4 linked regions of the Homo sapiens genome follow. The protein of the gene in region 4 interacts with the protein of the main gene of each other region in a pairwise test. Each region holds a gene or a part of one and is shown on either strand. Other genes may lie near its edges.

Region 1 (7,024 bases), on a different chromosome or scaffold from region 4:
CACTTGCAGAGTGAACTGGGAGCTACACATGGACACAAAGAGGGGAACAAGAGACACCAGGGCTTGAGGGTGGAGAGTGGGAGGCTGGTGAGGATTGAAAAACTACCCATCTAGTACTATGCTCACTACCTAGGTGACAAAATCATTTGTACACCAAACCTCAGCAATGTGCAATTTGCCCGTGTACCAAACCTGCACATGTATCCCCTGAACCTAAAACAAGAATTGGAAGGAAATGAGAGACAGAAGACTACAAAGGATCTTAAAGTTTAAGCATTATGAAAAAGAGCCAGAATTCTATCACTCCACCCCACCCCCCCAATAATTATTAGGGCAGTTTCAGAACTCCTGAAAGATACAAAGAACAAGATGGATTAGGAGGGACCTAGAGCAAATCCTAACAGGAGGGAGCTCAATTCACAGGGTTTACAATAAGGCAAGCAATAAATCCTGAAATTTGGGAAATCTCAAAGAGTAAAAGACAGATAAGGATTCCAGGAGAGGTAAGGAATTCGGATTTAGGATACTGCAGGCATTTACAATACTGCAGTCCTGAAATGTTGAAGTCTCCAAGAGCAACAAACAGACAACAAACAACAAACAGATAAGGATTCCAAGTCACACCTGGTTAGAATCTGCATCCTGCCCTGGGCACGGGAACAAAGGAATAGGAGATTTCAAGCCTGAGTAACCGAGTCATCTGGGATTTTATCGCAGAAGAAAGAAACTGAAGGAGGGTGGTAAGAGTAGAATGAGAGAATTCAGATTTGAGACAAAGTCAGTTTGTGTGGACTGAAGGGCATGCACCTAGGAATGTCTTGTAGACCACTGAAACCACAGGACTAGCCAGGCATGGACTGTGGAGATATGGCTCTGAGAGTTGCCCACTCAGGGGTTCGGTGTCAATGGCAGACATCCTCTCCACATCAGAGACCCAGGGGCAGAGAGTGTTGCCCGTAAATCCCAAGTCCCAGGAACTCTCAAAACCTCAGCAAAGTCTTTACAGAGAAGCCCCAAGCTGGCCCTATGGAGACCTTAATACAAAGGAGCTTCTGCCAAAGACAACAAATCAAAAAGATGTCTGACTTTGGTAGGACAGGTCAGGTCCTTCCACACAGACAGCAGTGCTCATGAGAACCACAGTGTGGCATGAGGCTGTCCCTGGGGAGAGGCAGGCGGGAGAAAGGAAACTTCACAGAATACCCTTTGCTGCCTACAAATTCTGCACCACAGACTGCCTACTCAAAATAACACCATAAAGTTTAACTTTCTTCAAAAGGTCAGTCAACTTAGTGGGCTCAATGCCATCCCTACTGTTGGGGCAAACAACATGAGAACAAATATCAGTGACTGGCATAGGAAGCTGCCCGGTGGGGACCATACGTGGGGGTGGGGAGGGGGTGCCTCACTATTACCCCAGCCAAGTAACCACCACATGACAAGACTTGGAAGGCAGGAACCCTGCCCAGTGCCAGGAACAAATTAGCATTCTTTCAAGGAGACTTTGGCAAAATTAATAGTGAAGAGTCAGTGTCCGTCTCTTTTCTGAACCAGAGGCAGTATGACACACAAACAGCTGTACTTTTTCACCCCCAACAGCCTCTAGTGCCAGTCCAGAAGGGCTGGGAGACCTTAACAACATAGAATGTAGCTTAACAAACTGTGGAGAGGAATCTCCTCCACCTACGTGGATCCTAGAAAAGATGGAAAAGTGTGAAAACCAGAAACAGTAACACTCAAATCTTTTCAAACAGTTTAAAGGATGATTATCTGCCCTGTGAAATTAGTTACAATGGCCGGGCACGGTGGCTCACGCTGTACCAGCCCTTTGAGAGGCCGAGGCGAGAAGATCGCTTGAACCCAGGAGTTCAATGGTCAACATTTTAAGACCCTGTCTCTATTATAAAATAAGTATGTATATATTTATATATATAAATTCAAAAAAGAAATTAGTTACAAGATTCATTTTAAAAAGAGTTTCTCAAATATATTCAAGATTATATAATTTCTGGCAGTTGTAAGGTTGAGAATAAAGTGAGGGAGGAGAAATGCTTTACATTAGTAGGACAGTGCAGGTTTTATACAATCTTCTTGTTTATCAAACATATTCTGAATGATTTTATCAAGTATTATGTTCCCATATCCATCAGCTGTTAGACTCTCATGCTCATTTTCTACCTTACCAATTTAAATATGCAGTCGGCTGGGTACGGTGGCTCATGCCTGTAATCCCAGCATTGTAGAAGGCCAAGGCAGGCAGATCACCTGAAGTCAGGAATTTGAGACCAGCCTGGCCAACATGGTGAAACCCTGTCTCTACTAAAAATATAAAAATTAGCTGGGTGTGATGGTGGGCGCCTGTAATCCCAGCTACTCGGGAGGCTGAGGCAGGAGAATCACTTGAACTCGGGAGGCAGAGGTTGCAGTGAGCTGAGATCACGCCATTGGACTCCAGCCTGGGCAACAAGAGAGAAACTCCATCTCAAAAAATAAATAGATAAATAAAAATAAAACTCTTAAATATTATTGATTTAAAAAAGATTGTATTATTTCTTTAAATCAGTAGGGAAAAAATTGATTATGTGGAGTCAAAACAGGCAATAAAATTCTGAATAATATCCTTATGAACACTGATAACACCAGCCCCTCTCAGAAATACAGACACCGTCCATAGCAGACCCTACAGTCAGTGAATGTTCTAAAGAGAAGCGTTGAATACTGAATGACTGCTTATTACTAGAACAAATGGTTCTCATGCTAACAGTCATTAACTGGAAAGCATTTCTTCCAAGCACCCTCACCCACTGCCTGGGTAAGGCGCCTTGTGGTCTTCAAGCACTGCGCCGGGAGTGCCTTTCAAGGATACCAGAGTGGCCACTCCCAGGAAAGTGCTCACAAATGTCTAAATCACAGTCATCCGATAACCAGGAAAACTGAAACTAATCAACTTTCTCTATAAAACACATACATTTTTTTCTGCAAAGAGTCTCCACATTTACTCTGAGACCTTTTTAACATTTAACATTTTGAAAGATTTATATAGTATTTTTTTGATTTTGTAGCCAAATAAGAAAAATAGGTAACATTTGGGTATCATATCTATCAATGTTAATCAATAAAGAAGCTTTTAAAGTCTGTAAATTAATTCTATGAGAAAAAAATAAAAAACAACAACCGGGAATTAGAAGACCTTCATAGGCCAGGCGCGGTGGCTCACGCCTGTAATCCCATCACTTTGGTAGGCCAAGGCGGGAGTATCACCTGAGGTCAGGAGTTCGAGACCAGCCTGACCAACATGGAGAAACCCCATCTCTACTAAAAATACAAAATTAGCTGGGCGTGGTGGCATGCCCGTAATCCCAGTTACTCAGGAGGCTGAGGCAGGAGAATTGCTTGAACCCAGGAGGCAGAGGTTGCGGTCAGCTGAGATTATACCATTACACTCCAGCCTGGGCCAACAACAGCGAAACTTCGTCTCAAAAAATAAATAAATAGAAGACCTTCATAATACGAACCATTCTGTATCTAACCAACTAAGTCATCTTGAGCTAATAACTTAAACTCTCTGAGCTGTGGCATCCTCTTCTATAAAATAACTACCTCAAGCCGGGTGCCATGGCTCAGGCCTGTAGTCCTGAGCTACTCAGGAGACTGAGGTAGGAGGATGGCTTGAGCTCAGGAGTTTAAAGCTGTAGTGAGCTATGACTGTGCCACTACACTCCAGCCTGGGCAACAAGGTGAGACCCTGTTCCTAAAAATAAAAAACACCTTTAAAGTCCCTTCTAGTCCTAACAACCAAGGAGAGCAATTTAACATTTTTTAAAGATGATAAAAATTCTTTTTTTTTGAGATGAAGTCTCGCTCTGTCCTCCTGGCTGGAGTGCAGTGGTGGGATCTCGGCTCACTGCAAGCTCCGCCTCCCGGGTTCACGCCATCACGCCATTCTCCTCAGCCTCCTGAGTAGCTGGGACTACGGGCGCCACCACACCCAGCTAATTTTTTTTTTTTTTTGTAGTAGAGAAGGGGTTTTGCCGTCTTAGCCAGGATGGTCTCAATGTCCTGACCTCGTGATCCGCCCGCCTCAGCCTCCCAAAGTGCTGGGATTACAGGCGTGAGCCACCGCGCCCGGCCGATAAAAATTCTTCTAATGAAATACCATGTTAACCTGGGCAAACACAAAACATTTTTTAAAAATAGATTTTGGAAAAACTAATTTTAAATAGTCAAAAATCATGCAGTAATTGAGTTTTTAAAATAAAATCATACTGTTTGAGCAACAAAAATAAGAAACATAAAATAATTGGTTATATGAGAAAATAATCTTTCACCTCCTCTCCCTGTTAAGCCTGGGAATCATAGTTAAGGTTTACTGATTTTTTTAATTCCTAAATTATTTCTCAACATAAAAAAATTTTCTTGAAAAAAATTAAGCATTTCTCTTATACCTGAAGTAGTTATAGTTCTTTAATATTTTATTTGAGTAGTTCAATCTCAAAGTCTATTGAAAACCATTTTTAATTATAAAAGAAGGTAATTGCATACAACAGTGTTCAGTGGTCCTTCTACAGTTAAAGCCTGTGATTCGGAGTACTGAAAAATTCCACAAGAAAATAAACCAAAAAGAGGCCGGGCGCGGTGGCTCACGCCTGTAATCCCAGCACTTCAGGAGGCCAAGGCGGGTGGATCACCTGAGGTCAGGAGTTTGAGACCAGCCTGACCAACATGGTGAAACTTTGTCTCTACTAAAAATAAAAATATTAGTTGGGCGTGGAGGTATGTGACTGTAATCTCAGCTACTCGGGAGGCTGAGATGGGAGAATCACTTGAACCCAGGAGGCAGAGGCTGCAGTGAGCCAAGAACACATCAATGCACTCTAGCCTGGGTGGCACAGCGAGACTCCATCTCAAAAAAAAAAAAATTAAAATTGAAAATAAACCGAAGATAGGTCATAGAAGGCTAAGTCCTTTCTATAAAACTTTCCTTAAAAGGTAATGAATATGAATAGGTTCTACAAATATATATAACTTGAAGATTTAATCACCTTTCAAGTGTGTAAGATGAATATTAAAGTTTTTTCTATAAAAATCTATTTTAATCAGTAGCAACATAGCTAACATATTATGTGACAAGCTCTGCTGTCAGCCCATACATACGTTTAATCCACATGAATATCCTGTAAAGCACATACAATTTTATGACCCCCATTTTAATGATGGACAAACTGAGGCTGCCACAACTTCCATGATCTACTCAAAGTTACACAGCCTTTATGTGGCGGAGCCCAGGCTCAAGGTAGATGTAACTGACCCAAGCCCCTGCTCTTACACGCTATCTTCAGTTAAGATTTAAACTCCCCTTTCTAAATGATGTCACTATTTCCTCTCCATATGGGTTTCATCTATCTAGAAAGGAAGCCTTGAAATAAGTAAAGCTCTAATTTAAATAGCACTTCAGCAATTAAGTAAAGCAGAAAACCCCAGAACCTATACGCTAACTTCCGAAACAAAATCTCCTGAAATGCCAACTCAATCATAAATTTTAAGATGCCAATCTTTCAGACCATATCTCATCCTTTGCTTTCCTAAGCTCCATCAGAAAAATATGGTTGGGTAGGAAGAGGATCATTCCCAAAGCCTAAACTCCAAGTTTCTTAGTTTGGCAACTATACTGTGCTTTGGGACTTTAAAATTATAAGCACAGTTCCCAGAGGAGAACATTTCCTTTATTAGCAATTGGCTTTGAAAATTCCATTCTCAGATGCTAAATATAACAAAATACCTTCTGACTTTTATAAATAAACATGCTCCAGATTATTTTGATACTAATGATTTTCTATTTACAAGACAGTTTTGCCACAGCAGTTAAGCAACTGTAACATTTTGAGGAATCTTTCAAGTTTACTCCAGAGCTTTTTTTTTTTTTTTTTTTAAGACAGAGTCTTGCTCTGTCGCCCAGGCTGGCGTGCAGTGGCGCCATCTCGGCTCACTGCAAGCTCCGCCTCCCAGGTTCACGCCATTCTCCTGCCTCTCAGCCTTCCGAGTAGCTGGGACTACAGGCGCCCACCACCACGCCCGGCTAATTTTTTGTATTTTTAGTAGAGATGGGGTTTCACCATGTTAGCCAGGATGGTCTCGATCTCCTAACCTCGTGATCCACCCGCCTCGTCCTCCCAAAGTGCTGGGATTACAGGCGTGAGCTACCACGCCCAGCCTCCAGAGCTTTTCTTTTCTTTTAAGACGTTGTTTGGCTCTTGTTGCCCAGGCTGGATGGAGTGCAACGGCGCAATCTCGGCTCACCGGAACCTCTGCCTCCCAAGTTCAAGCGATTCTCCTGCCTCAGCCTCCTGAGTAGCTGGGATTACAGGCATGCACCACCACGCCCGGCTAATTTTGTATTTTTAGTAGAGACGGGGTTTCTACTAAAACCCCGTTGGTCAGGCTGGTCTCGAACTCCTGACCTCAGGTGATCTGCCCACCTCAGCCTCCCAAAGTGCTGGGATTACAGGCGTGAGCCACCGCGCCCAGCCTATTCCAGAGCTTTTAAAGCACTGACTTGAAAATTGTTCACTGGATTCTTCTACTATGAAATTAAAAAGTTCTTGTTTCATAATGCATTTCCTTAAAATTTATTATTTCTAATTTCCTTGGGTTCTAACACAAGAATATTGGCAAAGCCAAAGTCATGGAAGTAGGTGTTTCCCAAACTATGAAACAGAATAAATCAGGATTTTTTAAAAGTTTACTATGGGCCGGGCACGGTGGCTCACACCTGTAATCCCAGCACTTTGGGAGGCCAAAGTGGGTAGATCACCTGAGGTCAGGAGTTCGAGACCAACCTGGCCAACATGGTGAAACCTCGTCTCTACTAAAAACACAAAAAAATTAGCCAGTCGTGATGGCAGGCACCTGTAATCCCAGGTACTGGGGAAGCTAAGGCAGGAGAATTGCTTGAACACGGGAGGTGGAGGTTGCAGTGAGCCGAGATTGTGCCATTGCACTCCAGCCTGGGCAACAAGAGCGAAAC
Region 2 (7,444 bases), on a different chromosome or scaffold from region 4:
AGCACAGTGGCCTGATCTCGGCTCACTGCAACCTCCGCCTCCCAGGTTCAAGCGATTCTCCTGCCTCAGCCTCCTGAGTAGCTGGGATTACAGGCGTGCACCACCACGCCCAGCTAATTTTTGTATGTTTAATAGAGACAGGGTTTCACCATGTTGGTCAGGTTGATCTCGACTCCTGACCTCGTGATCCACCCACCTCAACCTCCCAAAGTGCTGGGATTACAGGTTTGAGCCACCACGCCTGGTCTACATGCTTTTTGAAGGAAATCACCAGCCTGGCCAACTGGGATCCCCACAGTCATCAGCCACACGAGCTGAGCCATCACTGCTGCTGACCCGTCTTGCCTGGAGTCTCCTGCCTTGCTCTACCCAGAACTCCCCTTTCCTAAAGCTCCTCGTCTACACCGTGTCACTGCTTCTCTCTTCACATACCTTCTTGCCAATGTTAGCTCCAGCAACATGACCCTCTTTCTTTACAGAGATACCATTCAAATATTTTAATTATTTTCATAATCATATGTAATAATATTAAATATATTTTTAAGCTAAAAATTGCTACATGTCCCGTCACAACAACACAGCTGATTTTACTTTTATATTTTTTCATCTCTGTTGAAATTGGCCCATATTTCTTACTGTGAATATGTTTATATTGTTAAAATCTTACATACTATTACATAAGTTTTTTGGGTTCCATTTTTTGTTTGTTTGTTTTCTTTTGTTTTTTTTGTGTGTGTTTTTGGAGACAGAATTTCTGTCACCCTGGCTGGAGTGCAGTGGTGCAATCTTGGCTCACTGCAACCTCCACCTCCTGGGTTCAAGCAGTTCTTGTGCTTCGGCCTCCCAAGTAGTTGAGATTACAGGTGCACACCACCACGCCCAGCGAAGTTTTGTATTTTTAGTAGGGATAGAGTTTTGCCATGTTGGCCAGGCTGGTCTCAAACTCCTGGCCTCAAGTCAGCTGCCCACCTTGGCCTCCCAAAGTGCTGGGATTACAGGCATGAGCCACCACTTCTGCTTTGAATTCCATTTTAAATGGCCACATTATATATTCCACATAACTGAAATACCTTTTCCATTGAATTCCATTTTAAATGGCCACATTATGTATTCCAAAGAACTGAATACCTTTTCCAAGGACTTGAAATAAGTTGAAACTATTCACTGATTGTCAGATACTCTGTATACTTTATTCTACAACCTGATTTTTGCACCTCATATGTCATGGACCTTTTTGCAAGTCAGTACATATGTTTTCTATGTTATTTTAAATGGCTGCGTAGCATTCTATAGTAAAGATACATTTTTCCAATTTTTAAATTCTTTTTGATTTTTCAATTTGTGTAATTTTTTCATTTTGAATCATTAATACACTTTATGCTGCAAAGAAAAAAAAACAAAAAAAAAACAAAGAATAAAATGGCACACAGTGAAAAGTCTCTCTCCTCTCTTTTCAGTTCTCATCACCATCCCAGTATGTAACCTCCTTTCTTAATGTCTTACGTTTCCTTCCAGAGTTTATTTAGGCAGAGGGAAGCAAATATAAATGTTATTCCTTATTTTTGTTTTCTCTCTTTCTCTTTAACCAGAATGTGATATATTGTATCCACTGTCCCACTTGTTGCTTTTTTTTTTTTTTTTTTTTTGAGACGGAGTCTTGCTCTGCCGCCCAGGCTGGAGTGCAGTGGTGCGATCTCGGCTCACTGCAACCTTCGCCTCCCAGGTTCATGCCATTCTCCTTCCTCAGCCTCCCGAGTAGCTGGGACTACAGGTGCCCGCCACCACACCCGGCTAATTTTTTTGTATTTTTAGTAGAGACAGGGTTTCACCGTGTTAGCCAGGATGGTCTTGATCTCCTGACCTCGTGATCTGGCTGCCTCGGCCTCCCAAAGTGCTGGGATTACAGGCATGAGCCACCCCGGCCTCATTTTGCTTTTTAAACGTAATGAGTTAACTTGGAGATCGTTCCAACTCAGTACAGAGAGAGTTTCCTAATTCTTTGTTCTATAGCTGCATGGCTTCCTACTTTGTGATGCCGTCCGTGACTTCCACATGAGGGACATTGTGGTCATCACTTTGAAGGCTAATCCCATCTCTACCTGTTAATTCCAAAACCTCATTCCAGCCATTATCCACCTTAATCCCTCTTGACTGTTTTGTTTTGTTTTGTTTTGTTTTGTTTCCTACGAACATGTTAGGTCTCTTATATGCTAACAGAGAACTTTCCCTTCACTCTGAAGTCCCTTAAGGCTCCCATAACCTTCAAAGCCAGACAGAGATGTCCACAGTTTCGTTCACAGCTTCCATTTCACCACCCATTCCTTCCTTGACACTGTGATATTCCTTCTTCTTCCCGTCTCAATTAAAAATGATCTCTTGGCTGGGCACAGTGGCTCATGCCTGTAATCCCAGCACTTTGGGAGGCCCATGCAGGTGGATCACCTAAGGTCAGGAGTTCAGACCATCCTGGCCAGCATGGTGAGACCCCATCTCTACTAAAAATACAAAAACTAGCCAGGCATGGTGGCGGGCGCCTGTAATCCCAGCTACTTGGGAGACTGAGGCAGGAGAATCGCTTGAACCAGGGAGGCGGAGGTTGCAGTGAGCTGAGATCAGGCCACTGCACTCCAGCCTGGGCGACAGAGTGAGACTCCGTTTCAAAAAAATAAAACTGATTTCTGGAAGATCATCTAATAGAAACATTCAGCATCTTGGTCTATTTCTCTATCCTCCCCGCACTAACATCTGAAAATGGCACCTACCTATTCACTCATTAACCTCTTGGAAAATGACTTCTGCCCACCCTACCTGCTTTATACTAAAACTGATCTCCAGTGTCACTTAACCTGTTAAGGGCCAGTAATCTCCCAGTAACCTGGCTGTGACTGCCTTCTTTAACCTCCACTCTTGGTGCTCCTGTTATGCCTGCTTGTCACCACAGCCTAGCCCTAGAGATTCTATCTTTCCAATGCCTTCCCTTCTATCCTCTCCTAACCATCTATTATTCTGTCTATTACTCCTAAATCAGTTCCTGATTTCTGATTATCTGGATGATGAGCAGCATGCTTCTAACAAATCTTTCTCTCTCCAGCCTCTTTCCCACTCCAACTGAAAACCATGGGTTTTCCATCATCCTTTTCTCCAAAACTCTTATTTCCAAGTCAATTAAGCACTAACTCCCCAATCTGATATTCAATTACTTCCGCAGTTTTAACACAATTCCACATGTAACGGCATCGGTCAGCATTATGTCCCACTGCTATTCCAAGCATACCCTGTGCTCCAGCCACAGCAGTCTGCTTATTTTGCACGAAACACATGGCGTGCTTTTGCACCTCCAGGCTTTGGTTCACCCCCTTTTTTTTTAATCCACCTGGATTATGTTTCCCCTCCGTCTCTACTATTCTAAATCCCATCCTCCCCTAATTTCACTTGCCACGCTATCTTCACTAACCTTCTACCAAACGTATTATAATTATTTGTGCGGTTATCATATTTCCACACTGGATTCTTAATTCTGCTAAAACGAAATACTGTAATGCCTTTGATGAGCCTTCCATGTGCCAGCCATGTGCTAAGTGAGCTACATGCATTATCTCATTTAATCCTCAAATCGCCATCTAGGTCAGGACTCTCCCATTTAACATTAAACAAACTGAGGCTCCGAGAGATTAAGTAGCTTGCAGCTTTCACGCAGCTAATTATGGTGGAATCAGATTCCCTCCCCGAGGTTCAACTTGTATTAGTTAGGGTAGCCAGCATAATATATTCGCCAGCTACGCTGCACTCAACCTGTGTGTGCCGGATCAGCATGTTAAAAACGGTGTCTGCAAGTAGACCAAGGGAAGAGGGGCTGCGGGGGCGGGAATTGAGACAGCAATGAATTAGGATGGCGGGATTGGCGGTGATGTTTCCAAATTTCCACTGTTGGGTTGTAGAGCTTCTGAAATAAGCATTTAAAATGTATAGTTACTAAACAAGATTGCATCTACCCTTGGTCTAATTGTTATGTGTAGGTTAGTTTTGTCTCCCTGATTTTATTGTCATCCCCCAGGGATTGTTTCTGTTCTCCCGCGTTCCCAGAGCTTTCGGCGCATTGCTCAACACACGGTGTGCGTACTTGTTGATTTTAATGTATGTGTGTTTGCATATGTGCACAGCAGCTGGGCGGAGGACGTGGGTGTGGGATGCACTGTGCATTCCTTCTCCTCACTCTTGTTCCTTTGAGCAGCTGCAGCCTGGATGCTTTCCCTTAGGGGTAGGGGAGAGGCAGAACCGCTGACCCTTTAACAAGTTATCCCTCACAGAACAGGTGTCTCCCCCGACTCTCGGTGGAGAGGGATGGCTGGATACTTAGTGACATCAGCCACGAGCCAATGGGAAGTCGGGCTCCAGCCGTCGCGCCAATGAGCGGCCGGGGGCGGGCCGGGTTTCCTGGGCGCCTGGCTGGCCGGGCTGGTCCTGCGGCCGCGGGTGAGTCTCGTCCGCTCGCGCTGCCCACCGCGGCTCCAGCAGCTCCAGGCGCGGTTCCCCGGCCCGCGCCGCTCCCGGCCCCCCGGCTCGGGCGCCTCCCGCCGCAGCGCAGGCTCCCCCGCCGGCCGGGCTCCTGCGCGGCGCGGCTCGGCTCATGCCCCCGGGCGCGGGGCACACAGGCCGGCCGGCAGCCGCTGGGAAATAGGCCCCCGGGGGCGGTGGCGGCGGCGGGGCCATGGCGCGGAGACCCCGGGCGCCGGCCGCCTCCGGGGAGGAGTTCTCCTTCGTCAGCCCGCTGGTGAAATACCTGCTCTTCTTCTTCAACATGCTCTTCTGGGTGAGTCTCGGGGTCGAGGGCACCTGGGCGGCGGGGTCCCCCCGCGGGGTGGAAGGGTGGCCCGGGGTGCCCCACGCGCGGGAGCCGCACTGCCGAGTTTTCTGGGCTGACGGCACTTTGGGGGAATTTATCCTGGGGAGGGACACCCCGGGGACGCCGCGTCTGCAGGGGGCGTTGTAGGGAGGAGGGTATGCCAGGGAATCAGTAAAGACTGATGGGTATTCTCGGGGCGTCGGAGGAGGGTCTGTGTTAGGCTAGAAATGTGGGTTTGAGGGAGCCTGTTGGCCCAAGGCGGACCCACTGACACATTCATGATGGGGGTCGGGGGTGGCGGCTGACTTTCAGGCCTGGGGGCCTGGAGGCCCGGCTGGCAAAGAAAGAAGAGGAAGGAAAAACCCAAACCTCTCTCTCCACCACCTCAGAGAGGATGGGTTACTGGCATCATCTCTTCCTTTTGCAGGCCTCATCTACCCCCACCTCCACCCCCCCAAAGTCTAGGAAGAATGGCCTCCAGGTGCAGATGTCTTTCCCATCCCAGCACTGCCCCAAACTTTGTCCCCTCCCTGCCACCCTTCTCAGGACCAGACTTCACCCCTGGAGCCTGGCAATCACCAGTGTCTTTAAACAGGACCCCGTGTTGGGCCGGAGGGCCAGGGGTCCTTTCAGAATCTTCTGCTTGGGGTGGAAAAAGTATTGGGCTGGGACTCCGGACACCTGGATTCCCATCCCACTCTGCCGTTCATTGTTGACTTGACCGACCTAAGCATGTATGTTCATGTCTGCAGGCCTTGACTCCCTCCCCCACAAATCCAACCCAGTGTGATCAGGGGTGGCAGAAAGACTGCTGAAGCTGAGAATTGAGCTGAACCAGATCATGCAATGCCAGCTCGACCCTGTTTCCTGGCTAGAGAGTCCTGGAGGTCCTGGGGTGTGAGAACATAGGGACATCCTTCCCCCATTCACCTCCTCTTCTGGCTCCTACCACACCAGAGCTGCTGCTTCTGGAGCCCACCATCCTTGCCCACTTCAGCTGGAGACCTAAAGTTCAGACTTGCAGGAGGGAAGAATTGAGTCTAAAATATGTTTCCTAGGGGAGGGAGCAGAACAGACATCTAAGCCATTTGCTGGAAAGGTTTCACAGGGCCCGTGGGGTGAGGTGCAGACACAAAGCCCATAAGTGCTGGCCTGTTGGGACAAATGAGAGAAATCCCATAGGGTGGTGATGACAGCGCACTCAGCCATCCTACTCCTGGGGAAAATGAAACTTGTGCTCCTATCAAATGCTCAGTTGTAAAACTGGAAAAAAATTTTAGAAGACATCTTGTCCAGCATCTGTGTTTATGTCTATAAAATGTAGAAAACTAAAGCACAGAGATGTTAAATGTTTTGTCCAAGGTCCAACAGCTGGTTAGCAGGCTTGGTCTGGTGACCTTTCTACTGAACCACAGTGCCGCTGGGGGAAGTCCTCAGCACAGATGGCTGCTGCTATAGCTGGGGTATGGGCAGTATTAGTAGTTAACCAGTCAACCCAAGTTCCCATAGTCTAGGTTCTGCTTCAGCTGGAGGTTAGGGAAAAACACAAGAAAATCCCTTACCACTCTACCAGTGCTGGGGGATGTACTAAGAGACTCCCCACTTAGGGGCAAGTATCAGTGAAGTCTCTGTGCTCACTGAGTGTGCCAGGCCAGTGACGTGACATCCTCGGAGCCAGCACTAGCATTTCAGGGACTTTAGGTCGTCACTCTGACTTCCTTTATCTGCCGAGACTGTCTCCCTTGGAGCCATTGGTACCTCACCCTTGTCTGTGCTCGCCAGTGACAACAGCTGGGTGCATCTGTTACACTTGTGTTCCTGGTCATTTTTTTTTTCTCGAGCTTCCCTACCCCCTACCTCCACCCTACCCCCCTTTTATCGGACAAACGACTTTGAGAGATCTCAGCCAGGAGAGAGTTTGGCTCCACAGACCCATTTACCTTGGTAAAAATGCTTCATTCAAGGTCAGAAGACGTGGGTGGCCAAGCTAGCACCACCCCAAATTAGAATAGAGCCCCTTCTTGGCCCTACAGTAGACTCATAAAAAATCAGAGGCTCTAGAAATAGCACACTGAAAGACAAGAGGCTCAGCATCTTTTTGGCACCAACTTACTGTGTGACCCTAAGCCAATGTATCTGTCTCTCTGACCTTAATCTTTCTCCTCTAAAGGAGAAACAATTTCTGCCTCAGTGAACTATTTAAGGATGAATGAATCATTTTGGGGACTGTTTTCTTTCTTCAAGACCTAGAGCTGGATCTAAGGATGAATCTCCCTGTGTCCTGATTGCCCTTCCTAGGGGACAGTACTTTTCAGGTGTTATTGAATGTCCCTTCTCCCCCAAACCCAGTGCTGCACAGGTATATTCATACAAGAGCAGCTGGAGAGAAAATGCTGCCTCCCCAGATCAGGGGGCCATCTTTCTTCCTAGCTCCTCTTCAGGGACTGGTTCCCATGCTTTCTTTTTTGTAGACTTCCACCATCCTAATCAAATTCTGCTCTTCTGCCCAGGAAGCACCTATGGATGAGATGATGGTCAGCCCACACCCTTTGCAGGCAGAGTGCATGCTCTGGCCGGCTTCTGGAGCTGCCGCATGGCAGT
Region 3 (7,590 bases), on a different chromosome or scaffold from region 4:
ACCTTGTCCGTCTTTCAAGGGCAAGACTCAGATCCCCTTCCTCACCCACCCATGAAGCCTTTGCTGACCTATTCCCCCCCCCCACTCCGTGTCCCCCTAACTCTTTTTTTTTTTTTTTAAGACAGGGTCTTGCTCTGTCACCTAGGCCGGAGTGCAGTGGCATGATCTCGGCTCATTGCAACCTCCATCTCCTGGGCTCAAGGGATCCTCCCACCTAAGCCTTTGGAGTAGCTGGAACCACAGGTGTCTACCACCAAGCCCGGCTAATTTTTAAATTTTTTTGTAGAGATGGGGTTTCGCCATGTTGCCCAGGCTGATCTCGAACTCCTGAGCTCAGTCTGCCTGCCTCAACCTCCCAGAGTGCTGGAATTACAGGCGTGAGCCACCATACCTGGCCATTTCTCTCTTTTATCTCTTCTCACCAGACAACTAAAAGTCTGAATTGTGTGCATTACCAGTCACAGAGGACACTGTCTTAGACTTCCACTGGTGGTGTCACTCACCTGTTTCCACATCAGTAAAAGCAGAGAATGCCTGTCCTAATGACAAATGTGACTGTGTATAGGAAGACAAAGGTGTATAGACCAACCAAGGGTTTGTTCCTCTCTCTCCCTAACTAGCACATGCTGAAAACAGTCAATAAATAACTGATAGTTTGTCCGGCCCAGCCTGATGATGAACTAAAAGGTGGGCATCCATTCTCAGAGTGCTGAGCAGTAGTGCCCGGCCTCCGCACACCTTCAGGGAACAATGGGGTTTTGATGCTGGGTCTGTATCACCAGAGGAGTGGAATGAGAAAGCCAGCAAAATCACTTTCAAGGGAAAGATGGGTTTCTAACAAGTACTCAGTGCTAATAACCAACGTGACTGAGTGCTTACGAGATACTACACACTCTTCTAGGTGTTTTATATGGGTTGTCTCATTTAATCTTCATAAATCATAAGATAGGTACTATTTTCCCTATTTTGTGAATGATGAAACCGGAGCTTAGAGGTTAGCAATACTATCTTTAGCAGGTTTTTAAAAAATGATTTCCCTGTTATCTTTGAAGATTCCTTTTCCACATTTAATTACAAGGGTTTCTGCTACATTCTTTGCCATAGCTATAAATTATTAGACAGATGAATGTAAAGCCCTTCCTTTAGGCTTATACAATAATCTTCCTTCCTTCCTTCCTTCCTTCCTTTCCTTTCCTCCCTCCCTTCCTATTTTTTGAGACCGGTCTCACTTTGTTGCCCAGGCTGGAGTGCAATGGCACGATCTCGGCTCACCTGTGCTTCCCAGGTTCAAGCGATTCCCATGCCTCAGCCTCCTGAGTAGTTGGGATTACAGGCGTGCACCACCACGCCTGGCTAATTTTTTTGTATTTTTAGTAGAGATGGAGTTTCACCATGTTGGCCAGGCTGGTCTCAAACTCCTGACCTCAGATGATCCGCCCACCTCGACCTCCCAAACTGCTGGCATTACAAGCATGAGCCACCACGCCCGGCCTCTTTCTTTCTTTTGAATTAGCAATGGGGTCTCACTATGTTCCCCAGGCAGGTCTCAAACACCTAGCCTCAAGAGATCCTCCTGTCTCAGTCTCCCAAAGTCCTGGGATTACCGACATAAAATTATTTGATAAACCGAGGTTACAAAGATTTGTGAAGTCACCATGTCCATGTGACTTCAGATTAAAACCGTACTAAGGGGCACACTCTAGTTCCTGCTTCCTCCCAGGCCCTTCCTGTGTGAGGCAGGCAGAGAGAGGTGGGAGTCTTCCCACCTGGGCTGAGGCTTCCAGGACTGGTCTGGGGAAGGGGATGTTGAACAATTCTTTCTCACTGGGATTAGGAAAGGCCTTCACCTACCTCTTGGAGAAGGAGTAGTCAGGAGGCTGGTCATTGTCACTAGTGGTTGAGTTTCTTGGAGAAGAGGCAGATCTGTAGGAAGAGGGGCAAAGACAGGAATGTAGCGGGTGGGCCCCTATGGCTTTGAGTCCTGGAAGTCCCAGGAAAGCCTCTGGTGCCAGGTTCTCCCAAGTCCCTTCCCCTTTTTCTCTTGTCCTCTTCTGGTTTCCCTGAATATCTCCTCAGGCTCCAGGTACCAACAGCTCTCCACAGGAGCAGGTCTGAGGCCGCATGCAGTTTGACGGGGTGTTACCTTCATACGCTCTCTCCAGGTCCTTTCAATGGGCCACCAAATTTACTTAGATCTCTCAAGGCCTGAGAAAGTCAGGCAAAGGTTCGCAAATCAGCAGCGAACCCAGTTTCGCCAAAGCGCGGTAACAGGTACCCTAGGGTTCCACAGCTAGGAGTTCTGGTGACGCCATCCACCAGGTGTCAGGAGAGGGCCGGGAAGGTCAGGACCCGCGCCCAGGCTCCAGAGCGGAGTGGGCGCAGCGCAGTAGCCGGGCCGGGACCGGGAGGCGACGGCCGTGGGCCGCCTTCTGGCTCGCCTCGGACGCTGGGACGCCGGACTGGCCGCCCCCTCCGGGCCTGCTTTCGCCGTCCAGGGCGCGGTCCGCGCACAGCCTGCCAAGCCTCACTGGGCCCCAGCCCGCGCCCCGCGCCCCGGAGATCCTCGACGCCCCTGCGAACGCGGGGTGGACGCGACGGGCTGGGTTGGTCCTCGCCCCGCGGCCCCGCCCCCGTCCCCGCCCCCGCCCCGAGCCCCCCGCGTTACCAGCACCCCGCGGAGCGCGCTGCGCTGGGGGCGGCCGGTGCGTCGGGGAGCGGCGTTCCCAGCCGCCGCGACCCTCTGCCCCAGCGGAGCGCTGAGCTTCGGCCGCTCCGGGTTTCGGTTCCTGCCACGGCCGAGGTGGCTGCGGCGAATGTGGGCGACCCGGCTCTCCGGCGCCCCCGCCCTTCCCTCGTGCTCACCTTTCCAGTCGGACGGGCTGCTGGTGAAGGGCCGGCGCCGCTCCGCGCGTCCTTTTGAACTCAACGGGGGCGGGCACCGCGGAGTCGCGGAGGCCAGCAGAGGCCGAACGAGGACCCCGAGCGGAGGAAGCCGCGGGTGGCGCGCGGGGTTGGCGCAGAGGCCGGAGGGGGTGGGGGGCAGGCCGACGGGGTGGGACAGGAAAAGCGGAGAGAAACCGCCCTCTGCAGGTCCCCTTGGCTCCCCCGGGAGGAAAGGCAGCCTGCCCTTCTCCGATTGTCACTTTACTCTCCATCCGGAGCCGCTTCCTTTCTCGCCGCGAGGCTCGGGGTTGGGGGGGGACCAGATTGGAGCCGCGGGCTAACTGGGATCCGTCCCATTTCCCTGGGCTTGACGTTCTCTGAATTTTTAGCTAATGTGGAAAGTTACATTTATTTGCATTTGTTTATCGCTTGCTCACATAGGTCTGTGTCCTGAAGCTTGGCAGATGAGCGAACTTAGCCAGCACACCCCCGGCCGTGAAGCAGGGAGGTGAAGCGGGGAGAGCAACGAGCCCCACCCGGGTCTTGCCAGCTGGACGTTCTTGTGGGGCAGCGTTGAGCAGCGGTTAGGAGTGCCGTGGACTTTGGATTCAAACAGCCCCAGCTCTTCTGCTTGCTAGCTGGGTGACTTTGGGCAAATTAACATCTCGAAAATCTGTTTCCTCATTCCTAAAATGCGGGTCTGAAAGTGATCATGCCTGTAAAGCCATCTCATATCCATGGTTCTAGAAGCATGGTGAGCACCTCAATTTGAATAATCAGTGCCATGCTTTAGCTACCTCTTGACTCACTCGTTTGTGGCAGGAAATGTTCCCAAATTAATCAGAAGAATTCAGTGACTAAGAGGATGTAATAGTATATAGCGCAGGCACTGGAATCAGCTCTGCTGTGTGATCTTGGACAAGCTGCTTCTGTTCCGTTTCTCTTATCTGGGGCAATACCTGTCTGAATAGAGTGACTGTTGGGACGAAATAGGTTAGTAAATATGTACTGTAAGGCATTAGAACCTTGCCTGGCACATAGTAAGTGCTCAATAAACGCTAGGTCTTGTTACCTTGGCTTCCCGTTTAGGATTGGAACCCTTGTGATTATTCTTTCCCTCCCAGTGATAGACTTCTGTGCTTACTTCGCACTCCTAGGCGTTCTGTAGGTTTGTAAACCAGTATTTATACAGAAATACTTTCTGTAGAAAGACAGGCATCATCAGATTGTGCATGTTAATCCGGGAACAGACCGAAAGGGAAGGTCTCAGAGGAGAGAGGCATAAAGGGAGAAAACAAAACAAAGTCACAAGCAAAGCAAGAGTAGTTGCTTTTATTCCTAAAGTGTTCATTATAAAAGAAACCAGAGGGCAGGGCACTGTGGCTCCCAGCACTTTGGGAGGCGGGTGGATCACTTGAGGTCAGTAGTTTGAGACCAGTCTGGCCAACAAGGTGAAACCCTGTCTCTACTAAAAATACAAAATCCGCTGGGCGTGGTGGCACACACCTGTAATCCCTGCTACTCTGGAGGCTGAGGCACGAGAATTGCTTGAACCTGGGAGGCAGAGGTTGCAGTGAGGCGAGATCACACCATTGCACTCCAGCCTGGGCAACAACAGCAAAACTCCGTCTCAAAAGAAAAAAACAAACACAAATACAGGAGGAAAACAAACAATAAAAAAGTGATGAAATTCATTTTATATAAATATATTGTGAGAAATATATGTAAATATGTGCATGGGAAAATGCCAATCCAACCAAGAAAGGCAAAGAAAGTGATATGCCAGCTATGCATATGTAACTTAATAAAAGAAAGGTGAGCCTGGCTTGTCCTTAGATAAGAGAATATCCAAGAGAAAAGGAAATTAAAATCCTAGAGGGCTAAATCCAAAGGAGGACAATTGCTGGCATTGACATACTTCTAGCTGTCCACCTTGATCATGAATTCCAGGAGAAGTTCAGATCGTTCTTGGACCTGGGTCTGTCTCTTTCACATTTTCTATTATGTGTTGAAGATTGTTTAGAACTATAGACTCAGCCAGGCGCGGTGGCTCACACTTGTAATCCCAGCACTTTGGGAGGCCGAGGCGGGTGGATCACAAGGTCAGGAGTTCAAGACCAGCCTGGCCAACACAGTGAAACCCTGTCTCTACTAAAAATATAAAAATTAGCTGGACGTGGTGGCAGGCGCCTGTAATCCGAGCTAATGGGGAGGCTGAGGCAGGAGAATCGCTTGAACCCGGGAGGCGGAGGTTGCAGTGAGCCGAGATTGTGCCACTGCACTCCAGCCTGGGCGACAAAAAAAAAAGAAAAAAAGAACTACAGACTCAGAGGCTATCTGGCTCAACTGACTGACTCTACTGATTTGCTGTCACTTTCACAATTTCGACAGTTGTTAGTAATGTTCTTTCAATAAGCATCTTTTTTTTCTCTTTAAAATGTAACTGGTGGGGCGCAGTGGCTCACGCCTGTAATCTCAGCACTTTGGGAGGCCAAGGCAGGCAGATCACCTGAGGTCAGGAGTTCGAGATCAGCCTGGCCAACATGGCGAAACCACGTCTCTACTAAAAATACAAAAATTAGCTGAGTGTGGTGGCGGGAGCCTGTAATCCCAGCTACTTCGGAGTCTGAGGCAGGAGAACCTTTTTGCACCCTGGAGGTGGAGGTTGCAGTGAGCCGAGATTGCACCAACGCACTCCAGCCTGGGCAACAGAGTGAGACTCTGACTCAAAAAAAAAAAAAAACAAGTAACCTTACACCTATAATCCCAGCACTTTGGGAGGCCACAGTGGGCAGATCACTTAAGCCTAGGAGTTTGAGACCAGCCTGGGCAACATGTTGAAACACTGTCTCTACAAAATACAAAAAAAGTTAGACAGGAGTCGTGGCATGCACCTGTGGTCCCAGCTAGTCAGGAGGCTGAGGTGGGAGGATCACTTGAGCCCTGGGGGTGAAGGCTGCACTCCAGCCTGGGAGATATAGCAAGATCCTTTCCCCTCAACCAAAAAAAAGTAACCTTAGGGAGGGAGGTGGGGATGATTAATGGGTACAAAAAAAAAAAAAAAAAGAATAAGACCTTAAGACCTACTATTTGGTAGCACAACAGGGTGACTATAAATAATAACTTAATTGTACATTTAAAAATAACTAAAATAGTGTAATTGGATTGTTTTTAACACAAAAGATAAATGCTTAAGGGGATGGATACTCCATTCTCCATGATATGATTTTATTATGCATTGCATGCTTATATCAAAACATCTCATGAGGCCGGGCATGGTGGCTCACACCTGTAATCCCAGCACTTTGGCAGGCGGATCACAAAGTCAGGAGATCAAGACCATCCTGGCTAACATGGTGAAACCCCGTCTCTACTAAAAATACAAAAAATTAGGCAGGCGTGGTGGCAGGCACCTGTAGTCCCAGCTACTGGGGAGGCTGAGGCAGGAGAATGGCATGAACCCGGGAGGCAGAGCTTGCAGTGAGCTGAGACTGTGCCACTGCACTCCAGCCTGGGCAACAGAGCAAGACTCTGTCTCAAAAAAAAAAAAACAAAAAAACTCATGTACCCCATAAATATATATACCTCCTATGAACCCACAAAAATTAAACATTAAAAAAATAAAAATAGGCCAGGCACAGTGGCTCACGCCTGTAATCCCAGCACTTTGGGAGGCCGAGGCGGGCAGATCACAAGGTTGAGAGATCGAGACCATCCTGGCCAACATGGTGAAACCCCAACTCTAATAAAAATACAAAAATTAGTCGAGCATGGTGGCGCATGCCTGTTATCCCAGCTGCTCAAGACGCTGAGGCAGGAGAATCGCTTAAACCTGGGAGGCGGAGGTTTCAGTGAGCAGAGATCACACCACTGCACTCCAGTCTGGCAACAGGGTGAGACTCCATCTCAAAAAAAAATAATAATAAAAATGAATAAAATGTAACCTTAGAAGGTTTGCTGATACTTGATTTTTTTTTTTTTTTTTGGAGACAAGAGTCTTGCTCTATCACCCAGGCTGGAGTGCAATGGCGTGATATCGGCTCACTGCAACCTCCGCCTCCCGGGTTCAAGCAATTCTTCTGCCTCAGCCTCCCAAATAGCTGGGATTACAGGCGTCTGCCATCAGGCCCGGATAATTTTTTGTATTTTTAGTAGAGACAGAGTTTCGCCATGTTGGCCAGGCTGGTCTCGAACTCCTGACCTCAGGTGATCCACCCGGCTCAGCCTCCCAAAGCGCTGGGATTACAGGCATGAGCCACCACGCCTGGCCTGATACATTATTTATTAATTTTTTTATGTAGTCACATACCTCATTTTATTTTTTGAGGTGGAGTCTCACTCTGTCGTCCAGGTTGGAGTGCAGTGGCTCCATCTCAGCTCACTGCAACCTCTGCCTCCCAGGTTCAAGTGATTCTCATGCCTTAGCCTCTGGAGTAGCTGGGATTACAGGTCCACACCACCAGGCCTGGCTAACTTTTGTATTTTTAGTAGAGACAGGGTTTCACCATGTTGGCCAGGCTGGTCTCAAACTCCTGACCTTGAGTGATCCACCTGCCTCGGCCTCCCAAAGTGCTGGGATTATAGGCATGAGCCACTGCTCCCAGCCAACATACCTCATTTTAAAAGTGTAGTCATACAGAAAAATAGATCCAATATGCACATGCTCAGCACCCAGTTTGGTGTAAAATAAATACTATTGTAAGCAGT
Region 4 (6,680 bases):
CGGAGTCCAAAATGTCATCATGGAGGATTTCTTCTAGGCTTCCCCAAGAACACTTTGGGTACCAGGCATAAAGACAAATCTTTTGCCTTCCAAATTAGCTGATAAAAGTAGAAGGGATAAGAACTAAGAGCTATCCTGTGTCGCAGTTTCGTCATTTTCTGGCCCACATCCTGGGGCCTCTGCCTTGTTTACCCGGTGTTTTAAAACACACAGCTGGGAGGGGCGCAGGGCTTGCAGAGCTGGCTCTGTGCCCAGGAAGGACACGCACTCAAAATCAGCCCTGCAGACACGCACCTGGGAGCCGCTTCCCTCCCTTGGCACGTACAGGTATCTTCATTACCAGTGTGTCTCTGCTCAGATTCTGCTTTCAGCCTAATTGTTTCTGTCTGGGATTTCTTTCACTGCTCACTTGGCAGGGAAGCCCAGAGATTATTCTATCAGCCACACTCCGACTTAAGTGATGATGTCTTGCTCATCTCTGCTCCTGGACAAACCTCCTGGGGATCTATGTGTGTGTGGTTGTGTTCATTGATTCTTCTACCCTCAACCCCAAACCCCTAAAAGGAACAACAATGGCAAGATGTCTACACAGGTGACTCAGCACACACCCTACTTTATACTGAAGCAGCTGCACCTGAGGCAGCAAAGTAGCTCTGCTGACCCGCGGGCCACCCTCACCTCACCCCATCTCCGCTTCGCTCATGCCTTTGGGTTATTCCTTGCTCCTATTTGTCTTAGAGCTACTCTTCCCTCTAAAACATCCATCCTCATTTCCCTGCAGGGATCCTGGCAGAGCAGTTTGTTCCGGATGGGCCCCACCTGCACCTCTACCATGAGAACCACTGGATAAAGTTAATGAATTGGCAGCACAGCACCATGTACCTATTCTTTGCAGTCTCAGGAATTGTTGACATGCTCACCTATCTGGTCAGCCACGTTCCCTTGGGGGTGGACAGACTGGTTATGGCTGTGGCAGTATTCATGGAAGGTAATTTTGTGGAACGGATGGAGAGGAAGGAGAGCCTGACAAGTCATATTTATGAAGGATCAGAGTACAAAATATCAGAAATGTTGCAAATATAATAACCTCCCCCAGAAAATCCACATCTCTGGACTGCCAAAACCTGAATAGGACCTAGTGCTCTACTCTGGATGGGCCAGGTGACATATTCCCTAAAGTAGCTCATGAAAGCTTTGAGGCTTGAAGGCAGCTACCAAAGCCCCGGCTAACACTGCAGGAGTCCTCCTCGCCTTCCCACTGCCGCCAGCAGCCCCTGCTCACACACGTGCATATTCCTCGGTGTGGACGTATGTGCGCACATACACATGCGGGTACACACAATGCCCCAGCTGGTTGAATGCCACCATGCAGGGGATACACCCCTTTGGTTAAGCGAAACCACACTCTACCTTTTGCCCAGGGAGGTACCGTCTTGCCTCCATCACAAGCCTCAGGAGACCCACTCCACTGCCAGGGGAGCGCTGCCAGTATGACTCACACTGACTGGGGTATGAAAATACATTTTGTCATCTAACAACCTCACTTCTGTACCTCAGCAAGAGTCGAAAAAGGTTGAGGGCAAAACTGAATTTCAAGTATACACACACAGTCTGTTACAAATCAGCAACATGCTTCAGCCGGCCCATCCTATACTGACCCCACCATGGGTTCCATAGAGATTTTAAGATACAATCCCTTGCTGCTTTATACTCCTAACATACTCATGAAATACACTTACTCGCATCTGTTTGCTGCCTGTAATGTTATGTACTAACTGCCTAAATGCTGAAGAACCTAGCTGAGACAGGTGTAGGAGGAAACTTCGGTGATGGTGAAAGCCAAGCGTAGCCCTGACAGCTGCCATCTGGTTTGTGGCAGGTTTCCTCTTCTACTACCACGTCCACAACCGGCCTCCGCTGGACCAGCACATCCACTCACTCCTGCTGTATGCTCTGTTCGGAGGGTGTGTTAGTATCTCCCTAGAGGTGATCTTCCGGGACCACATTGTGCTGGAACTTTTCCGAACCAGTCTCATCATTCTTCAGGGAACCTGGTTCTGGCAGGTGATTTTCCACACCCAGGCCCCTCGCTGGTCTGGATGGAGAAGCCCCCACCGAGCGCATCCCAGAGAAATCCCTGACGAGAATATGGGGTCTGAAAATGCAGCATTAACATGCCATGCAAAGGGGTTTAGATGACCCTTTTCCCCCCATGCCCGCCCTTTGACTCCTAGTTTTATCCATTAACATCCAGAGGATGCATTAGCAATCCAAAATTTAAAGCATGCACGGTGACGTTCAGCTGCCCTCCCCAGAGGATGGGCTGATGCCTTTCACAGGCTCTGCTTGCTAAACTGTCCACTGGAAACGTGGGCCCTGAAGTTCTGTTTTGTTGTTTGTTTTGAGAGAGACTCACCCTGTCACCCAGGCTAGAATGCAGTGGCGCAATCTTGGCTGACTGCAACCTCCATCTCCCAGGTTCAAGCGATTCTCATGCCTCAGCCTCCTGAGTAGCTCAGGTTACAGGTGCCCGCCACCACACCTGGCTAATTTTTTTGTATTTTTAGAGACAGGGTTTCACCATGTTGGCCAGGCTGGTCTCGAACTCCTGAACTCGAGTGATCCGCCTGCCTCAGCCTCCCAAAGAGCTGGGATTATAGGCGTGAGCCACTGCACCTGGACTTGTGTTTTTAAGTAAGCCTATACAACCAAAATTAAGCTGAAGCCTTTTTTTTTTTTTTTTTTTTCTGAGACAGAGTCTCGCTTTGTCGCCCAGGCTGGAGTGCAGTGGCGCAATCTTGGCTCACTGCAAGCTCCACCTCCCAGGTTCACGCCATTCTCCTGCCTCAACCTCCCAAGTAGCTGGGACTACAGGCGCCCGCCACCACGCCTGGCTAATTTTTTGTATTTTTAGTAGAGATGGGGTTTCACCGTGTTAGCCAGGATGGTTTCAATCTCCTGACCTCATTATCCACCCACCTCAGCCTCCCAAAGTGCTAGGATTACAGGCATGAGCCACCGCGCCCGGCTTTTTTTTTTTTTTTAAGACAGTCTCGCACTGTGGCCCGGGCTGGTGTGCAGTGTCATGATCTCGGCTCACTGCAACCTCCGCCTCCCAGGTTCAAGCAATTCTCCTGCCTCAGCCTCCCAGTTAGCTAGGATTATAGGTGCCCACCACCATGCCCAGCTCATTTTTTGTATTTTTAGTAGAAACAGGGTTTCACTATGTTGGTCAGGCTGGTCTTGAACTCCTAACCTTGTAAACCGCCTGCCTCAGCCTCCCGAAGTGCTGGTATTACAGACGTAAGCCACCATACCTGGCCAGAGCCATTTTTCTATGTGAAAAGGCCTTTCTATGCTAACGAAGTGTGGGAACTATGAGGCGGTGGTCACACATGGGCCACTTCGGTGGCCACAGGAGAACGGCTAGATTGCTTCTCAGGACGACCAACCACAAGACCAACTTCTCTCTGTAATCCCCTAGATTGGGTTTGTGCTGTTCCCACCTTTTGGAACACCCGAATGGGACCAGAAGGATGATGCCAACCTCATGTTCATCACCATGTGCTTCTGCTGGCACTACCTGGCTGCCCTCAGCATTGTGGCCGTCAACTATTCTCTTGTTTACTGGTATGTCTGAGACTTCAGTGAAGCTTTTCCTCCTAACTCTAAGCAGGACTGATGTGATTAACTTGCACCATCTGATGAGTGCCGACTACAGGCCAAATTCTGTGCAAGGTACTCTCATGCAGGGAAGGTATCACTACCCTTATTTGCAAACAAGGGGAATGAGGCTTTTCAAAGTTTAATGACCTGAGGGCTTTTCAAAGTCATAGTAACCTGAGGGACCCAGGTTTCAAATGCAGGTCTCACAGATTTTAAGCCTATGGTGTGGTGGGGAATACTGAAATGGGAATCAGTACTGGATGGCAGTCCCCACGTAAAGGGTTCATTCTGGACCCATCATCTTATTTCCAGACCTGCCCTCCCTGCTTCCCAGAAATGATGTGACAGTCAAAAAATAAACCAGAGCAGAATGTTAAGACAAACTGCACTCCACCCCTCACTGAAGGCTCCTTAGAGGTATACAGATAACAGCTATGGACTCCTATGCACTTGCTGCGCCCCAGGCCCAGTGGAAAGCAGCTACACTCTATTATCCCATTTAATCTTCACTGCTTTATGAAGTATGCACTGTTATTTTTTACAGGTGGAGAAAACAAGGCTTCAAAAAGCTGAGTAACTTGACCAAGGTCACCCCACTAATAAATGGCAGAGCCTCTCAGTGCAAGGGTGAATTTTAGCAAATGGTATTACCAGTTCTATTTGCTGTTCGGCTGCCTCTACCTTTTCTTCTAGGTCATTTCTCTAGATCCCAAGCAGAATATTAGGTTGGTGCAAAAGTAACGGTGATTTTTGCCATTATTTCATCCAGAAAGAGTTCCACACGGACCAAAGAGAAGGGAGCTCAAGTCAGTTTCTTTTAGTTCTCCTGCCCAGCCACTGAAACAGTAAACCAAGATAGGCAAGACCTTGGCCTCAATTATGACATTCAGTAGTTTCCACCATCGCCCCTTTATCTACTGATGAATATTTCCTAAGAAGTCTAGTTTATAGACATGTAATCACAGTATTTGATAGAAATATAAAGAAAATAGTTTAAGAATCAGTAGATGCCTTCACATCCTTGGTAATGGATTAAGGGAATCTCTGGCTAATTGGCTCTTACTCTTTCTCTATTAAAGCCTTTTGACTCGGATGAAGAGACACGGAAGGGGAGAAATCATTGGAATTCAGAAGCTGAATTCAGATGACACTTACCAGACCGCCCTCTTGAGTGGCTCAGATGAGGAATGAGCCGAGATGCGGAGGGCGCAGATGTCCCACTGCACAGCTGGAATGAATGGAGTTCATCCCCTCCACCTGAATGCCTGCTGTGGTCTGATCTTAAGGGTCTATATATTTGCACCTCCTCATTCAACACAGGGCTGGAGGTTCTACAACAGGAAATCAGGCCTACAGCATCCTGTGTATCTTGCAGTTGGGATTTTTAAACATACTATAAAGTCTGTGTTGGTATAGTACCCTTCATAAGGAAAAATGAAGTAATGCCTATAAGTAGCAGGCCTTTGTGCCTCAGTGTCAAGAGAAATCAAGAGATGCTAAAAGCTTTACAATGGAAGTGGCCTCATGGATGAATCCGGGGTATGAGCCCAGGAGAACGTGCTGCTTTTGGTAACTTATCCCTTTTTCTCTTAAGAAAGCAGGTACTTTCTTATTAGAAATATGTTAGAATGTGTAAGCAAACGACAGTGCCTTTAGAATTACAATTCTAACTTACATATTTTTTGAAAGTAAAATAATTCACAAGCTTTGGTATTTTAAAATTATTGTTAAACATATCATAACTAATCATACCAGGGTACTGCAATACCACTGTTTATAAGTGACAAAATTAGGCCAAAGGTGATTTTTTTTTAAATCAGGAAGCTGGTTACTGGCTCTACTGAGAGTTGGAGCCCTGATGTTCTGATTCTTCAAAGTCACCCTAAAAGAAGATCTGACAGGAAAGCTGTATAATGAGATAGAAAAACGTCAGGTATGGAAGGCTTTCAGTTTTAATATGGCTGAAAGCAAAGGATAACGAATTCAGAATTAGTAATGTAAAATCTTGATACCCTAATCTTGCTTCTGGATCTGTTCTTTTTTTAAAAAAACTTCCTTCACCGCGCCTATAATCCTAGCACTTTGGGAGGCCGAGGCAGGCAGATCACGGGGTCAGGAGATCAAGACCATCCTGGCTAACATGGTGAAACCCCGTCTCTACTGAAAATACAAAAAATTAGCCGGGTGTGGTGGCGGGCGCCTGTAGTTCCAGCTACTCGGGAGGCTGAGGCAAGAGAATGGCATGAACCCGGTAGGGGAGCTTGCAGTGAGCCCAGATCATGCCACTGTACTCCAGCCTAGGTGACAGAGCAAGACTCTGTCTCAAAAACAAGCAAACAGACTTCCTTCAACAAATATTTATTAAATATCCACTTTGCAACAGCACTGAAATGGCTGTAAGGACTCCTGAGATATGTGTCCAGCAAGGAGTTTACAGTCAAACAGGAGAGACATGCCTGTAGTTACATCCAGTGTGATGGGTGCTGAGAGGCAAGTACAAACCACGATGAGAAAAAGGAGAGGAGGGGAAATGCAGAGCTTGCCCTGTAGAAAAAGCACATCCCAGGTAGAGAGGGTAGCACATTAAAAAATGAAAGCATAAAAAAATACGGAGAACTTAAAAAGATTAAGTTCTACAAACTGATAAAAGTGAGTTAGGACCAAGTTGATGGGCCTTAGAGACCAAATAATACTTTCCGTGTGCATAGTATTTTTCAGATTCTGAGATGCACCCTATCTCATTTGATTCTCACAACCGCTTGTAATGTGTAAGAGCATGAGGTCTTTCAGAAAAGCTGGCTGGCCTAGCAGGGCGCGGTGGCTCACGCCTGTAATCCCAGCACTTTTGGAGGCCGAGGCGGGTGGATCATGAGGTCAAGAGATCGAGACCATCCTGGCCAACATGGTGAAACCCTGTCTCTACTAAAAATATAAAAATTAGCTTGGTGTGGTGGTGAGCACCTGTAGTCCCAGCTACTTGGGAGGCTGAGGCAGGAGAATCACTTGAACCCAGT

What was found.
Region 1: the proteins of TMEM45B (region 4) and CDS2 interact in binary tests that used the Homo sapiens proteins (3 or more experiments, as listed by UniProt).
Region 2: the proteins of TMEM45B (region 4) and TSPAN33 interact in binary tests that used the Homo sapiens proteins (3 or more experiments, as listed by UniProt).
Region 3: the proteins of TMEM45B (region 4) and SMAGP interact in binary tests that used the Homo sapiens proteins (3 or more experiments, as listed by UniProt).

The regions. Positions count from the first base shown.
Region 1 is NC_000020.11:5,129,998-5,137,021, reverse strand, and holds part of CDS2 (phosphatidate cytidylyltransferase 2), read right to left. Parts: intron 1-7,024. UniProt on the Homo sapiens protein: Catalyzes the conversion of phosphatidic acid (PA) to CDP-diacylglycerol (CDP-DAG), an essential intermediate in the synthesis of phosphatidylglycerol, cardiolipin and phosphatidylinositol.
Region 2 is NC_000007.14:129,140,273-129,147,716, forward strand, and holds the start of TSPAN33 (tetraspanin-33), read left to right. Parts: upstream 1-4,434; 5' UTR 4,435-4,708; coding exon 4,709-4,810; intron 4,811-7,444. UniProt on the Homo sapiens protein: Part of TspanC8 subgroup, composed of 6 members that interact with the transmembrane metalloprotease ADAM10.
Region 3 is NC_000012.12:51,267,394-51,274,983, forward strand, and holds the start of SMAGP (small cell adhesion glycoprotein), read right to left. Parts: upstream 3,023-7,590; 5' UTR 2,863-3,022; intron 2,818-2,862; exon of another isoform or gene 2,666-2,817; intron 1,924-2,665; 5' UTR 1,886-1,923; coding exon 1,852-1,885; intron 1-1,851. UniProt on the Homo sapiens protein: May play a role in epithelial cell-cell contacts. May play a role in tumor invasiveness and metastasis formation.
Region 4 is NC_000011.10:129,853,829-129,860,508, forward strand, and holds the end of TMEM45B (transmembrane protein 45B), read left to right. Parts: intron 1-781; coding exon 782-988; intron 989-1,879; coding exon 1,880-2,064; intron 2,065-3,484; coding exon 3,485-3,630; intron 3,631-4,745; coding exon 4,746-4,857; 3' UTR 4,858-6,175; downstream 6,176-6,680.